Linked DNA regions of Homo sapiens: region 2 is linked to region 1. The links come from fine-mapping of genetic effects on gene expression. A gene starts in region 1. The other region holds a variant in brackets. All regions are shown on one strand. Distances are from middle to middle.

The links. PIP is the estimated chance that this variant, and not a neighbour inherited with it, causes the effect.
Region 2: its variant is fine-mapped to the expression of SNHG11 in whole blood (TOPMed, PIP above 0.99).

Annotation. Positions count from the first base shown.
Region 1 is chr20:38,445,125-38,448,033 of GRCh38, reverse strand. It overlaps SNHG11 (small nucleolar RNA host gene 11), which reads right to left and starts at 1,380. Exons shown (of 5, transcript NR_003239.1): 1 at 1,022-1,380; 2 at 411-568. RefSeq lists enhancers at 1-545, 1,495-1,544.
Region 2 is chr20:38,416,976-38,419,884 of GRCh38, reverse strand. It overlaps LOC124904901 (a long non-coding RNA gene), which reads left to right and starts at 2,873. Exons shown (of 2, transcript XR_007067582.1): 1 at 2,873-2,909. The variant A/G (reference allele first, on the strand shown) is at 1,425.

The DNA.
Region 1 (2,909 bases):
GGAGATTGCCAAAGCGCCAAGCCCAAAGGACCTGAGCGCTATCCACTTAATGCAGTACAAAGATCTCATCTGCCCCCATCAAGAAAGTCACAGAAGACCAATTTCTGGTTAAAAAAAAAAAAGGCTTAAATTGTTCATTCATCCCACAAATATTGAGTATCTACAAGTAGCCAGACATCATGGGTTCAAAAGCAAGAAAAACGTGCAAGATCTCCCCACTTACAGAGCTTTCGCAGTTTCCCTACATTACAGAAAGTCAAGCTCAGGAGAATGAAAGAACTTAGCCAGGCTCTCCTCTGCACCCGGCTTTGCCATACAGTTCTCGGAATTCATGACCATGCCCTCCGCTGGGGTCCCCCAGAAGGGAATTTGAAGGGTCCCCCAAAGTGCTCATGACCAGCACCACTTACCCAGGGACATCCTCACACCGCGGACAGTGGGAGCCCCTCAGGGAGTGCAGATCAGGGTGCTGCAGGAAAAATGGGGGCGCTGGCTGGTGCGGAACCAGCAAAGCCATCCAAGGGAGAGCTGTCATCTGTCTCCAGGATAGCCGCACAGCCCACGAGGCCTAGGCAGGGAAAAGCGTAGGGAAGGGGCTTAGTACAAGGTCCTGGCAAAGGAGTCTGGAATTCGCCCCTCTGGGGCCCTGGGAGCGTCCTCCATTTAAACCTCAGCCAACTGGTCTGTAAAATGGAGGTTTTACAGCTACTTTTTAAAGGTTATTGAGGAGAAAATGAGTTCACGGTTCCAAGGACGTGGCACAATGACCGACACTTTGTAGGCAACCGAAAAGCAGCTTTGGGGGCTTCCAAAGTCAGGAGTCGGAGATCGGGGTCGGGGGAGTAAAAGTCGCGAGGTCTCTAGCCCCCTCAGCCCGCGTGCAAGGCCCCGGGCACAGCGTTGCCAAGCCGTTTCTCAAGGGGGCACTAAGCCTCCCCGCAGAGAGGCTGTGCCGACCTAGGGGGGTTTGACGTCTGCATGGGGTCGGCTTAGCCCAGCGAAGGCCGAGGGCGCGGCTCACCCGCCAGTCTCTTTCCCGAGGACACGCGAAACCCGAGGGGCCCACCCCGGCAGAGGGGACGGACCACTGCACCAGCGGCTGGGCCTGACGTCCAGCCGGCTCTTCCCACTCCCCTCGGGGCCTCAGTTTCCCCTTTTGTCGGGGAGGAGGTACACAGCACCGGCCTTGGGAGGCCACCAGGGGTTCTTGGGAAGACCACTCCTCGGGCCCTGCCCCTCATTGACTCATCCGGAGCGCCAGGACGGATGGCGGCGGGTACAGGGGTAACCGCGCGGAGGAGGCTGAGGGGCAGGCCGCAGCCACAAGACGCTCTCTCTAGTGCTCAGCGCCCGCGGAAATACGGCTGGGGGCGCGGCTGCAGCCTAGAGCGGCGCTTCCGCCGGGCCCCTGCCCAAGCAGACGTGCCTGCAGCGCCCCCTGGGAGGACGGAGCTGCAATTCTGTCCCTCCACTAACGCCCTTTATCCAAGCGTTCATCTAATGGAGCATCCCTTCATGAGTTCACTCACCCATCCATTTACCCAGAAAATATTTGTGAAACATCAGCTTCCATTTGAGGACACAGTGAGAAGACAGCCATCAGTCTATAAACCAGGAAGTGGGCCCTCACCGCTTCCTAGTTTACCAAATCTACTGGTGCCTTTGATCTTGGACTTTTAGCCTCCAGAACTGTGAGAAATAAATTTCTGTTGTTTATAAGCCACCCAGTTCATGATGGCACTTTGTTATGGCAGCCCAGACAGGGGTCGGCTGGCAAATAGGTCAGCTTGGACCATGGCCAGCTTGGTGTCCACACACCCTCCTCTCCAAGCAAAAAAATAGAAAAAAATCCACTTCAAACATGCATCCTTTCTAGCATTGGCAAGAGTGTGTCTGCAGTCTTGTTTTGTTTTTGACGTCAGCATACAAATAAAGGGTCAGCCATTGAGAGTAGACTGTTCTTTTAATGCTGTAACAAAGGCTGTCACAACATACTTATTTCAAGAGCTCAACATACTGCCCTGTTTGCTGGAATCACGTACTACGTAGGCCAGTGTCCCAGATGAGAAAGTCAACGTGGATAAGCAAAATGCCCACAAGGCTGTATGCAACAGCCAAACCCTCAATGGAATTTCTTAATAACTGGCCATTTAGGACAAGTTAAGGAAAAGACTTGGGCTTTTAGATAGAATGTGTTGGTGATAGAAACCTAACTTACGCTTTAAAAATAAAATACATTATTGGAAAACTTATATAATCAAGCGAAGGGAAGGGCAGAGGTCAAGCTGGGCCTCCAAGACAACAAACACCAGAACTGGAATTCCATCCCTGTCCTGCAACTCTGCCTCTCTCTCTGGGTGGACTTCTGACTTCACACTTGCTCTGATTTTTTGCTTATAGTGAGGGACATATGCCACGTTTACCCAGGGGAACATCTCCATCCTGCTTCCATTGAGGGTAGGCAGGACTGCCACATATGGTTGTGCAGGTCGTGTACTGCACAACTCATGGGAGCACCATACACATCATAGCCTATGGTTGAGAAGCAGAGATGCCAGGGATGATTGGGCAATCTGATGACACAGAAAACACTTGACTTAAAAGAAAGAAGGTGTTTTCCCTAGCATGTTCTTCCCTGGTGTAGCAGAGTCACCCTCTGTCATACCATCTCATCCTTAAATGATGGTCCTTCTAATAAAGTCCCTTGAAAATATCTCTGAATGGCAACACTTTTGAGGAATTTTTTCTCCACGCTACTTGAGATCAAGCAGAAGACTTTAATTAAACCTGTGACAGTGAAACCTGTGCACGGTCATTAGAAAAAAAGGTTTGCAAGCAGTAGCGGGGCTTTCTGAGAAATGCTATTCTGAATTCCACAAACTTTTTTTTTTTTTTTTTGAGACAGAGTC
Region 2 (2,909 bases), 28 kb after region 1:
CACTCCTGTAGTCCCAGCTACTCAGGAGGCTGAGGCAGGAGGATTGCTTAAGCCCAGGAATTCGAGGATTCAATGAGTTAATGATGGCACCACTGCAGCCCAGCCTGGGTGCCAGAGTGAGACCTGTTTTTAAGAGAAAGAAAAATTGCAGCAATGACATGATCTAAGGATGTGCACGCATGAACTGTCATCTCTGATTCACAGAGGGAGGAATCTACACATGTCCCAGGGGCCATGGTGAAAAGGTGCAGTTAATCTCCCCACTTGAAGTTAAAACCACCTTGGCTGGAGTTGGGGCAAAAATCACGCTGGTAAGCCTGTCTTGATGAATTTGGCACATTAATGGTCTGCCAGGCATTCTTTGTTTTTTTTTTTTCTCATGTTTTTTGTTTTTTTATTTTTTGAGTCAGCCTCACTGTTGCCCAGGCTGCAGTGTAGTGGTGTGATCTTGGCTCACTGCAACCTCTGCCTCCCAGGTTCAAGTGATTCTTGTGCCTCAGCCTCCTAAGTAGCTGGGACTATGCGCATGTGCCGCAACGCCCAGCTAATTTTTGTATTTTTAGTAGAGATGGGGTTTCGCCATGTTGGCCAGCTGGTCTCGAACTTCTGACCTCAAGTAAATACCCGCCTCGGCCTTCCAAAGTGTTGAGATTACAGGTGTGAGCCACCATGCCTGGCCTAAGGGGCAGGCATTTATGTTTAAAGGCACCATACCAGCAGTCAGTTCCCTGCAGAAGCATCCAGAAGTCACAGGTCCTTTTTCTGCCTTGGCCTTTGAGGACCATCCTGACTTTTTTGCCACCTTTTGCCAACTGGCTGTGGCTGCTTGAACAGATGCCAGGGGAAGGAATCTGGGTCCACTTGAGGAAGCTGTAACTGATGACAGATGTCTGCCACAGTGGAGGGGACAGCAGTAGAATACATTACCTAAGTCTAAGCAGTAATACAGTACCTAAGTCTGCATATTTCATCCGGCATCAGATCATCATGGGTGCCTCTCGCCACTGTTGCATGTGAGGCAGGAGCCATCCCAGGTCTTAAGGGCCTGAGGAACTCTGAGAAGAGCAGTCCATTAACCAAGGTGGCCCAAGAGCCAGGATTAGGTCAAGGAGGCGTGGCCCTTGCTGGGATATGTGCCCAGTATGAGGGCCTGAGGAAGCAGCTGGTTGGAGACTCCACAGCAGAACTGACAGCCAGGAGAATGGAGAGCTGGGAGAGTGAGGCTCATTCACTCAAAAAGCATTGTGCATTTACTTGGGAGCCAGACGCTAAGCTGGAGAAAAGGATACAAGGGTGAGTAAGGCAGTTTGTGTCCTCAAGGAGATCCCAGCCCAGATAAATATATGTAGCTGTGTTTCAGAGGCTTGGTTCCAGACCACTGCAATAAAGTGAGTTGCACACATTTTCTTGTCTCCTAGTGCATT[A/G]AAGTTATTTTAGCCAGGTGTGGTGGCACGTGCACCTGTAGTCCCAGCTACTCCAGAGGCTAAGGCAGAGGATTTCTTGAGCCCAGGAGTTCAAAGCCAGCCTGGACAACCTAGTGAAGACCCTTGTGTAAAAAAATCAAGTTTACACTATAGTGTAGTTTATTAACTGTGCAATAGCATTATGTCCAAAGCAATATAAATACCTTAATTTAAAAATATTATGAAAGAATGCTAATGGTTATCTTTAATCCTAGCTGCTTGGGAGGCTGAGCTGTGCACCAACATGCCCAGCTAATTTTTTTTTTTTTTTTTTTTTTTTGAGACAGAGTCTTGCTCTGTCACCCAGGCTGGAGTGCAGTGGTGCGATCTCGGCTCACTGCAACCTCCACCTCCTGGGTTCAAGCAATTCTCTGCCTCAGCCTCCCGAGTAGCTGGGATTACAGGCACCCGCCACCACGCCCAGCTATTGTATTTTTAGTAGAGATGGGGTTTCACCATCTTGGCCAGGCTGGTCTTGAACTCCTGACCTTGTGATCCACCCACTTTGGTCTCCAAAAGTGCTGGGATTACAGGTGTGAGCCACTGCGCCCAGCCACTAATTTTTTTTTTTTTTTTTTTTTTTAAGGGATAGGTTCTTGCTATGTTGAGACCCTGTCTGGTCTCAAACTCCTCCTAGGCTCAAGCTATCTTTTCACCTCAGCCTCCAAAGTACTGGGATTACGGGTGTCAGCTACCACCCCTGGTCCCCTTTGTGGAATTTTAATGCTTCCAGTCCTTTGCCTCCAAAGCTCTCCAATGCCTTTAAAACGATGGTTTTCTATTTTATCCACCCTTTCCAGTTCTTAGCAGAAACATTGGCCTGTCAACTACTCCCTTCTATTTAGAAGCAGAAATCTTGACATTAGCAGATTTTACTTAAAAAATGTTTTTCTCTCTGTTTGGAGAACGGATTATACCAGGGCAAGAGTGGAAGCAAGGTGACCAGTTGGAAGATTATGGCAGTTGTCTAGGTGACAGATATTGGTGACTTGGAGTAGGGAGATAGAGGTAGACAGCAAGATAGATGTCTATGTTCCAAGATAGAAAGATGAAGATACAATTTTAGGCAAATGAAGCTTAGAGCAGGGAAGTATGTAAAATGTGATATACCATTTTTTTGGTTAAAAGAAGATTTATTCGAAATCAGCCTGGACAACATGGTGAAACCCCATCTCTACTAGAAATACAAAAATTAGCCAGGCTTGGTGGTGGGCGCGTGTAATCCCAGCTGTTCAGGAGGCTGAGGCAGGAGAATCGCTTGAACCCGGGAGGCGGAGGTTCCAGTGAACTGAGATCGCGCCATTGCACTCCAGCCTGGGCAACAGGAGTGAAACTCCTATTGCCCAGGAGTTTTGAGAGTGAAACTCTCAAAAAAAAAAAAAAAAAAGATTTATATGTATATATGCAAATTGGGGTGATTTTTTTTTTTTTTATTTTAACATGCTT